2 separate regions of the Homo sapiens genome follow, and region 2 is linked to region 1. The links come from fine-mapping of genetic effects on gene expression. A gene starts in region 1. The other region holds a variant in brackets. All regions are shown on one strand. Distances are from middle to middle. Region 1 holds the start of PDE1B (phosphodiesterase 1B). Region 2 overlaps NCKAP1L (NCK associated protein 1 like).

Evidence for each region. PIP is the estimated chance that this variant, and not a neighbour inherited with it, causes the effect.
Region 2: its variant is fine-mapped to the expression of PDE1B in monocytes after R848 (Quach 2016, PIP 0.90).

The regions. Positions count from the first base shown.
Region 1 is chr12:54,547,308-54,552,687 of GRCh38, forward strand. PDE1B (phosphodiesterase 1B) reads left to right here and starts at 2,294. Exons shown (of 16, transcript NM_000924.4): 1 at 2,294-2,465; 2 at 2,553-2,678. The coding sequence starts at 2,566. It overlaps NCKAP1L (NCK associated protein 1 like), which reads left to right. Exons shown (of 31, transcript NM_005337.5): 31 at 1-936. RefSeq lists a silencer at 2,219-2,278 and an enhancer at 2,844-3,472.
Region 2 is chr12:54,499,668-54,505,047 of GRCh38, forward strand. NCKAP1L (NCK associated protein 1 like) reads left to right here. Exons shown (of 31, transcript NM_005337.5): 3 at 866-958. Among named protein-coding and RNA genes, the nearest start is that of NCKAP1L, 4.6 kb to the left of the region's middle. The variant G/A (reference allele first, on the strand shown) is at 3,039.

The DNA of each region.
Region 1 (5,380 bases):
ACTTGGCTCTGGTTTTATCACTTACTCTCTGTGAGACCCTATAATTTTTCTGGGTTAGTTTAGTTCTCATTTATTTTTATTTTTACTTTTTCCATCAAACTGTGTTGTCTATGAAGTTTTCCCATTTATTAAATGAAGGGAATTAGAGTGGATGAACTCTAATGTCTCTTTCACGAATAACTTTGTGTGTGTGTGCGTGTGTGTGTGTGTGTGTGTGTGTGTGTGTGAATTAGCCTTAAAATGAATCAGGAGCAGGGGGTCTTGGGAGAGCAGGATGTGACACTGTGTTAACAAGAAATGTTGAGAGAGCCCTCTGGATGTATGTCTTGCCTCTTTCCCACCTATTCTAGTTTAAAGACCTGCCTAAATTTGGAAACTCCTTAGCTCTAATCCTAATTTACTAATTAGAGCTCTTTAGCACCATCCTAATTTGCAATTCTTTTGTAGTTTCCAGCCCATTTCATTTTCAGTTGATAAGGAGGAGATTGCTCCCAAATTTTCAGAAATGGACTGTGTAGGAGTGTGACTAGGGTCTCAGATGCAGCCATTTCTTGGCTGGGTCTGGGGAAAAGCCAAGGGATGTGTGCTAAAGGTAGATGGACAGAGGGTGGGAAGTCCCTTATTATTTCCACTTTTTTCTCCATCTCTGACTCTGCCATCTCTTTCTGCCTCTGTACTTTCTGGGAGCTGGTTCTGCTGATACTTCTGCTGAATCTAAATGCTGACCTAACTTGGCAATTCTTTTATGTTAGGAGTCTTAGCTGTGACAGTTCATCCGCTTCTTCGCCCTTCCATTTCACTTCTTTTCTCCTTCTCTGACTGGGAGAGGAGGAGCCTCCACTCAGTATTTAGAACAGAGTAAATACCTTCTCCTGATCACTCCTCCTTCCAACCTCCAGAATTTTTTGAAATTAAAATTCACATTCTGGGATCCTGGATTAGTGGCCTGTTTTGGATTCAGTAGTTAGTGAATATATCTCCACTTTCTGTTGACATAGGAGTTTCCCCAATGCCAAAGCAGGTGGTCATTAAGGGAGAGAACAATATGGAGCAAGAGAGGTGGTTCCTGCAAGAGTCCTAGGTAGGACTCGGTTGGATGGAGGAGGCTTTGCCCTTTTACAAGGTCTTGAGTTCAAATTCCAGTTCACTCCTTCCACAAATGTTTATTAACCAGCTAGGCTGTTTTGTGCTGGGCCTTTAGCTCCTAGATTTCTTTCTCTGAAGACAGAACAGAAAAAATGAGCTGGAAGTGCTTCAGGAGGGGTTTTGATATCAGGAATGCTTTCCTGGCTGTGTAGAGTTATTACCTAGTCAAAGAAGAAGATGTTAAGCTGGGTGCGGTGGCTCACACCTGTAATCCCACCACTTTGGGAGGCCGACGTGGGCGGATCACGAGGTCAGGAGTTGGAGACCAGCCTGGCCAATATAGTGAAACCCCATCTCTACTAAAAAATACAAAAATTAGCCGGCGTGGTGGCCCGCGCCTGTAGTCCCAGCTACTCCAGGAGGCTGAGGCAGGAGAATCGCTGGAACTGGGGAGGCAGAGGTTGCAGTGAGCCGAGATCGCGCCACTGCACTGCAGCCTGGGCGACACAGACTCCTTCTCAAAAAAAAAAAAAAAAAAAAAAAAAAAAAAAAAGATGCCTGCTCTGGAGAGCTTTGAACTTGGAAGAAATTCCTATCTGCTAGGCGGGCAGGCAGAAGTACCATGGAGAAGGCCACAGTCTTGGAGACAGGTGGGGAAGATCAAGCTGAGGGACCCGAGGCCAAGTGTGGGATGCCATCACAGCTCAGGGCACACCCTGAACTTTTCCAAGACAGGAGCACAGGTGGGGTCTGGTCCGACTGGGTTCCGAGTCCAGATCTAGCAGGGAAAGATGTGTGCTCATCCCCTACCCCGCACTCAGACATGGGACACGCAGGCAGCTAGGCACACGTGGATACATGGAACCACAACCACATACACAGAAACTCAAAACACACGGAGAGAACCCACACAACCACCCACACCGAAGTCCAGCCCGCCGCCTCCGCTGCACTCTGTAAACACGCACTCACATCCGCCAGTACAGGGCACACGCAGCCACTCGTCCCCGGCGCCTGTGTGCGTGCGCTCGCCCTTGGGCGCTTCTGTCTGTGTGTGCCCCCGGCTTCCAATCGTTCCTTTGGGAGGGGGAGGAGTGGCTGTGAGGAGTGAGAGACTGGCGGGCAGGCTGAGGAGAAGGGAGGGAGAGCAGAGGGAGGGGGGAACCCGGCCGGGGGAGGAGGAGAGAGGCGAGGAGGCGGCTCTGGCAGCGCGCGGCGGCGGCGGCGGTAGCGGCAGCAGCAGCGGCGGTGCGGAGAGCTTGGACTGGGAGCCCAAAGCTCGGCTGGGCAGCGGGAGAGGAGGAGCCGCAGGAGCTGCAGCTCTGCCAGCTTGGGCCGAGCCTAGAGACACCGGCCTGGCTGGTCCACGCCAGCCGCAGGTGGGAAGGGCCTGGGATGGGGGGTGAGGGTCTCTCGGCTGGGGCTGAAGCTGAGCCGAGGTGCTGTCTCCTCCTTCTGTTCCGTAGACCGTGGCTGAGCATGGAGCTGTCCCCCCGCAGTCCTCCGGAGATGCTGGAGGAGTCGGATTGCCCGTCACCCCTGGAGCTGAAGTCAGCCCCCAGCAAGAAGATGTGGATTAAGCTTCGGTCTCTGTAAGTCCCCGGCCCGGGAATGGGGGGAAGGGACCTTAGGGAGCCTGAGCGGGAGGAGGAGGGGGGATAACTGGAGCAGGGCTGTGGGCTGGTAGATTCTCTTTGGCACAGATGTTGGCAGGTGCGAGGAAGCACGGCCCTGACACGCGTGGCCAGGCCACATGTGCAAGGCATGTGCGGAGCAAGCTGGCCAGTTGGAGCGGGCTTAGGAGTTGCAAAGGTAACGATGTGCCTGTGCCTGTGGACCCCAGGCTGACACACGCAGCGCCTAGAGGCAGCACAGTATATGCAGTGTGGCAGGGCTGCAGGAGGGCAGTAGAGGTGCCAGGCTGACTCACACATATCCATGTGCAGAGTTGTGCAGATGTGAGCCACATGACATGTGTGTGCATGAGTGAGCGTGGGTCACAGAGGTATGTGGAGTGATTGCACACAGCTGTAGATCTACTGCATGGGAATACTTGTGCCAACCTGTGGGTCATATGTATCTCAGTTGGGATTGGTAGTTTCTGCCTCATGCACAGGAAGTGGGGTGGGGGTTACCCCATGCCTGAGCTGCTCATCTCTTGGGGCCTGGAAACTCACTCTATGTATTAATGATGAGGGGACCCACGTGGAATCTGGAGGGGGGGTTGGAGCCCCCACCTGGAAGCTGAAGGAGGTGATGATGGTGAAGAAATATTGATTGACAAAGGCAAGGTAACTGGCTTAATCAGAGGCTTTTTGTTTATATAGGGTCTTCCAGGATCTCCAAGCACATTTGGGCATCTTTTCCTATTGTTGCAGTACCAGGGCATGTGGGGAGGAATAAATGGGGGAAGGAAGAACTCAGGTATCTGATACTCCAGTCCCAGGGGAGGAAAGGAACTTTTCCCCTGCTCCTTAGAAAAAAAAGAGGATTGGGTCAAAGACAAGCCATGCACCATGTTTATCTCCCAGTCAGCTGCTGCCATTGGGAAATCTCCGCAGTCTGTTGATTCTTAATCAGGGAACAAGAGAAGATGTCCCTCTCTCCGAGATGAATCCATGGCCCCAGGAAAGAGGAAACAGATAGGAGACTATGGATGTTTAGAGAGGAAACACAGTAAACATAGCCCTGAACCCAGTTCCTCCTCAATGTTCTCCATAGTGAGCACCGAAGCTTTCTATTTCTGGGTTCTGGGAGAGGGAGAGATGGGGGTAGGGGATGGATAGATGCTTATGTTGTATTGTTCTTTAAATACTTCACCTATGGTGATAAGATGACACCTTTTTATGGCAGATGGGTCTGATTTATACACTAGCTACTTGGAGAGGCGTTAGGGAGAACTGAGGCATAGTGGGCAACAAGGCTTGGAATCCAAATGTACTTCTCAGTCCTCCTCCTTGGCTGCCTCTGGCCAATCCAATTTGCTGGGCTCTATGAAGCACAGCCTTGGAATGAGTTCTGGGATGAAGAAATGGAAAACCAGATTGAACTGATTTTTGTTGGGAGGAGCACTGTGTGATTCTTGATAGAAAATGACGCTGCGTTAATGGTAAATGAGCTGGGGAAAGGGGCAGATAAGGAAGTAGTTGAAAGGTAAAGAAGGGCCCCAGGTCCATAAATGGGAGAATTCAGGATGGCTCCCCTAACACTAGTGGCTCATCATACTTACCTTGCCTGTATTCCAGGTAACAGGGCCCTGCGAAAGAGTGGGTATTACTAGTTTCACTATCTCCCACACATTTCTAACCAAAAGCCTTTCCTGAAAATGAATTGTTGTTTCTTCCTTTAGTGTGAGAAGTGCTCAGTGGTGAGAGAAGAGGATTCCCAGAAGGAGGCATGAAACCTGGGAAGAGAAGGGAGTAGAGGCATCTGTCTCTCCAGAGTGCCTTAGCTGAGATGTCCTTACATGAGATTAGGGTGGACAAGGATCCCTATTCTTATTGATTAGATCATTCTGGTCTTCACTCACTTCAGCAGTCTGGTCCTTAAGAATGCTAGCTTTGTACAATAAATTTACAAGTAAAAAATAAAGCTAGCTACATGTAATATAACTTACCCAAAAAAGTACAATCTCCGGATTATTAATTGGCAGGAATAGATTCCCAGTCTTACGTCCTTAAAGCAGAGAAAGACCTTGAAATCAAGGTAGATCCCAACTTGATCTATGTTGATGGCCTACTGGATTTTGCCTTTTTGAATATTGGGGAGGCTTTGACTATCAGATGAAGGGAAATAAAAGGATTTAGGGCTTTGCTGGGTAAGAGGTGGGAGTTTCCCAACCCTCTCAATGGGATGGTTTCTGAATAGGTGAGAAAGGAGATGTTCCCCCTTTTAAGTGGAAATAAAGATCCCCCTGCCCCTTTGGTCAAGGTGGGAAGGGGTTGCTAAGTCTGGAAATAGGAAATAGACATGATTATCTTAGGACTGGGTACTGCTTGGAAATGGAAACATGGCATATATACTTGTATGTATTTATCTAACTATCTATCTAGATTCTTCTACTCAACACATCCTATTCCCCCCCTTCTACCCTTTTAATTTCTAATCAGGACATCCAGACTTTCTTCAGGGAGACTAGGCCTGGTGTTTTTGACTCTGGATAAAAAGCCCACACTAATATAATAGTGCAGGGCAATTTTTTGTTGGGAAGAGCATCCAAGAATTCTGTTTCCCACACTAAGACCCTGTCAAAAATAAATTCAGAATCTAATCTGTATCATATGAGCTGAAGAGA
Region 2 (5,380 bases), 48 kb before region 1:
TCCAGCATAAGCTGGAGCGAATCATCACCCCTTTTCCATTGCAAGATTCATGGGAAAACATTGTTTTTGTACAAGACAGCTCTATCAACCCAGCAGGGTACATGTATTTTATTGTTTCTGTTTCCCACTCACTGTTTCCTTGCTGTTTGTCTTAGATTTCTGCATCTAATGGGATATCTCTACTTTTCCCTTATTAAATGTTAACCCTAGATTTTTCACCCATCTTTGTAGCATCTTTGAATTCTGTTTCTTTTGACTTTGATATAAATAGTATATCTGTTCATCTGAAAGGGTGCTTAAAATTTCCTCTCATTTAGCCCTCTGTATCTAGTCAGGATCACATGCAACCATTCTACCTAGATAGACAATCTCCTTTGTTTAAAGACCTTCAGAGCACTGAAGCGTTTCTAACTTCCTCTGTCAGTATATTTCAACTCTCTTTCTTTTTCTTTTCTTTTCTTTTTTTTTTTTTTTGAGATGGAGTCTTGCTCTGTCACCCAGGCTGGAGTGCAGTAGCACAATCTTGGCTCACTGCAACCTCTGCTTCCCAGGTTCAAGTGATTCTTCTGACTCAGCCTCTCGAGTAGCTGGCATTACAGGCGCCCGCCACCACGCCCAGCTAATTTTTGTATTTTTAATAGAGACGGGGTTTCACCAGGTTGGCCAGGCTGGTCTTGAACCCCTGACCTCAGGTGATCCGCCTGCCTCGGCCTCCCAAAGTGCTGGGATTACAGGTGTGAGCCACTGCGCCCGGCCTCAACCCTCTTTAAGAATGTTTTAGGTATAACCACTGTTCTTCTTGAGTTATTTGGATCAATTGTCTTATTTTGCACTTTTTTATTGTTTTGTTTTGTGTTTCTCTCAGCAACATTTAGGACCAGTACATCGTGAAAAAGCCGAGATAATTAGATTCCTCACCAACTACTACCAGTCATTTGTGGATGTCATGGAATTTCGGGTGAGCTCTCTTGAGCCGTTTCCAATGTAGGCAAGGTCTTTCAGAGGCTATTCTTTCTTTAGATGTTCATGTATTTGCTTAAAACAAGTTCTTGAAAAAATGAGAGAGATGTACTAATATGGAAGGATATCTAAGTTGTATTGTTAAATGAAAGCAAATTTCAAAATAGTATATGATACATCACATTTCTATTTTAAAAGAGTATGTATGTATATGTATTTAGTAAATATCTAGGAAAGATCTGGACTATTTTACATTAAACTGTTAAAAATAACTACCTTTGGGGACTGATTATGACTGGCTTCAATTTAGTAGGCTATGCATGTTTTTTCTATTTTAAAAATTATGGTAAAATACACATAACATAAAATTTACTGTCTTAACCATTTTTAAGTATACAGTTCAGTGGTACTAAGTATATTAATAATGCAACCATCTTTTCACCTTGTAAACCTGAAACTCTCTACCCTTTATGCAATAATTCCCCATTTCCCTTTCTTTCCAGCCCCTTGCCATCACAATTCTACTTTGTTTTTGTGATTTTGACTATTCTAAGTACCTTATATAAGTAGAATCATAAAGCATTTGTCTTTTTGTGGCTGGCTTATTTCATCAGCCTAATGTCCTTAAGGTTCATCCCTGTTGTAGCATATTGTAGAATTTCCTTTTTAAGCTAAATAATATTCCATTGTATGATTATACTACATTTTGCTTATCCGATCGTATGTTGATGGACACTTAGGTTGCTTCCAAGTTTTAGCTATTGTAAATGATGCTGCTATGAACGTGGGTGTACAAATATATCTTCAAAACCCTACTTTCAATTCTTTTGATTATAAACATGAAAGTGGAAATGCTGGATCATATGATAATTCTATTATTAACTTTTTTTTTTTTGAGTTAGGGTCTCACTCTGTTGCCCAGGCTGGAGTGTAGTGGTGCAATCACAGCTCACTGCTGCCTCGACCTCCTAGGCTCAGGTGATCCTCCCACCTCAGCCTCTTGAATAGCTGGGGCTAAAGGCACATGCCACCACACCTGGCTAAGTTTTTATATTTTTTGTAGAGATGGGGTATCCCCATGTTGGCCAGGGTGGTCTCAAACTCCTGGGCTCAAGCTATCCACCCACCTCGGCCTCCCAAAGGCTGGACTGTGCCGGCCTATTTTTAACTTTTTGAGGAACTGCTATACTGTTTTCCACAGTGGCTGTACTCTTTTACATTCTCACCAACGGTGCATAAGGGCTATAATTCCTCCACATCCTCGCCAACAATTGTTATTTCGTTTTTTTGACAGTAGCCATCCCAGTGGGTGTGAGGTATTATCTCATCTAAGTTTTTATTTGAATTTTTGCTAATGATTAGTGATAATGAGCATTTTTCATAGGCTTATTGGCCATTTATATATCTTCTTTGAAGAAATGTCTGTTTCATTCTTTGACCATTTTTGAATTGGATTTTTTGTGTGTGTTGAGACTTAGGAGTTCTCTATACAGGTTGAGTATTCCTTATGGAAAATTCTTGAGACCAGAGTGTTTTGAATTTCATATGTTTGCAGATTTCAGAATATTTGCATTAGGCAGTTGAGCATCCCTAATATGAAAGTCTGAAATTTGAAATGTTTCAATGAGCATTTCCTTTGAGTGTCTTGTTGGTGCTCAACAGGTTTCAGATTTTGGAGCATTTTGGATTTTCGGGTTAGGGAAGCTCAACCTGTATAAACTATATATCTTTGCATTATTTGAGCTTTAAAAATTTCAAGTATTTTTCCACAATATTTTATACAAACCTACTGTAAAATTTCTAGTATAGTACAATGAATATTGTTATACTCTTCTCCTGGATCTCCTAATTGTTAGTATTTTGCCACATTTTCTTATCCTTCTCTATTTTTTAATGAACTATTTGAGTTAGCCTCATACATCATGACATTTCCTTTCCCAAATACTTAAGCATACATTTGCTAAGAGCAAGAATATTTTCTTACCCAACCCTAATATAATTATCATACTCAGGAAATCATACACAGGAAATATAACATACACAGGAAATATATCATACACAGGAAATATAACATTATG[G/A]CTGGGTGCTGTGGCTCACGCCTGTAATCCCAACACTTTGGGAGGCTGACGGGGATGAATCGCTTGAGCCCAGGAGTTTGAGACCAGCCTGGGCAACATGGTGAAACCCCATCTACACAAAAAAAAAAAAAAAAAAAAAAAAATTAGCTGGGCATGGTAGTGAGTGCCTGTAGTCCCAGCTGCTTAGGAGGCTGAGGCAGGAGGATCACTTGAACCTGGGAAGTCAAGGCTGTAGTTAGCCATGATTATGCCACTGGCCACTGTACTCCAGCCTGGGTGACACAGTGAGACTTTGTCTCAAAAAAAAAAAAAAAGAAACAAAACCCCACCCAAACTAATATACAGCCCATATTCACATTTCTCCAGTTGTCTCAAGGATAATACATTGGATTTAGTTATGTCTCCTTCATCTTTAATCTAGAATGATTTCCAGCCTTTGTCTTGTATGACACTGACATTTTTGAAGAGTCTGGGCTAGTTATTTTTGAGAAATCCTTCAATTTGAAATTGTCTTATTGTTGATAGTTTTTGGGAGCAATACTACATGGATGATATTTTATTTGAATTTTAAATAATGAGCATGTATTATTTTTATAAACATAAAAAATAAAAATTAATATGATGTTTTTGAAAGAAAAATTGATAAGGTATTATTAAAATTTTAAAAATTAATGTCGTAATTTTACATTTAGAAATTTGTCATAAGGAAACAGAATTGTTTCATGGGGAAATAAAAAAAGGAAACAAATGCAAAGACATATGTATAAGAATATACTCCATTGCATTATTTATGATAGTTACAATGTGATAATTGATATATCCAATAAATAAAGGTTTGGTTAAAAGTTCAGAGTATGTGCCCACAAATGAATATTCTGTAGCTGTTAAAGTATACACACATATATATATATACACACACATATATATTTTTTCTTTTCTTTTTTTTTTTTTTGAGGCGGAGTCTTACTGTGTTGCCCAGGCTGGAATACAGTGGCGTGATCTCGGCTCACTGCTGCCTCCGCCTTTGGGTTAAAGCGAGTCTCCTGCCTCAGCCTCCTGAGTAGCTGGGATTACAGGCACGTGCCACCACGCCTCGTTAATTTTTGTATTTTTAGTAGAGATGGGGGATCTCACCATGTTGGCCAAGCTGGCCTCGAACTCCTGACCTCAAATGATCCACCTGCCTCGGCCTCCCAAAGTGCTGGGATTACAGGCATGAGTCACTGCACCCAGCCAATAATATATTTTTTATATTAATTGGTATAGAAAATGTTCATCATATGTTGTTTAATGTAAAAGCAAATTGCAGTAAGACAGTTTAAGACAGATGTAAGATGTAAGATGTCCCTAAAATGTATATTTACATAGGTAAATATGCATATAAAGAAGATTGGAATTTCTGATCGGTGGGATTATAGTTTAAAAAAGCTAGTTAAAATTAAACTTGTCGGTATTTTCTAGTTTTTTCTACAATAAACATGTATTATTTATGTATTCAAGAAATAATGCAAATTTTAGCCCTCTGAGCAACCCAAGCTTGTGGTGGTGTTATAGTATTTTTTCAGATGATACAAGAATAATGTGTTCTGTGCCTACCCTAGGAAGCAAATCCAGGATATTCAGTAGATCACATAGTGAAGAGAGAAGTGAGGACAAGAAGGACTGTAATGTATGAACGAGGGTCAGGTCAGAGAGTATTCATTGTGGAATTGAGAGTAGTGGTTAGCAAGAGGGTAGGTGCTGGTGGAGGCAGTGGGAAGAATGCTGGAAGCACATAAAAAAAGTCTCTTACTGAGAAAAGTTGAAGGGCAAAGGAGATTTTAGAACACCTTCTGGTTGCTGCAGTGGTAAATAAAGTTCTGAGCCCAAGGTGTTTGGTACGGCTTGTTTAGGAAAGGAGGGGAAATAGGGACATTGAAGTATGATGCACTGTTAAGTAGGCCCTGAATTAGACAGACTTGGTTTCAAATCTCAGCTTTACCACTTACAAACTGTATGACTTTAGATAAGAAACTCTTTAAATTCCAGTTTCCTTATCTATAAAATGAGGAAATAAGATTTACTGTGTGAGGCGTCTGTGAGAATTAAATGAGATAATGCATGGACAACATCTAGCTTGGTGTTTAGCATATAGTAAGGCAATAGACCAACACATGTTATTTCCGTTCCCTTCTGATTCTTGTCTGTAGAGAATAAGACCTGCGTAGTGACATTGGTTGTGTGAGTGGCTGAAAGTGAATTTCAGCTATATTCCACTGGAATTTGGGTGTAGGCTGGAGTTGTAGAAAGGCATTCCTAGCAAATGAGGAAGTATAGACCTAGACAGAGGTCATGTAGCATAC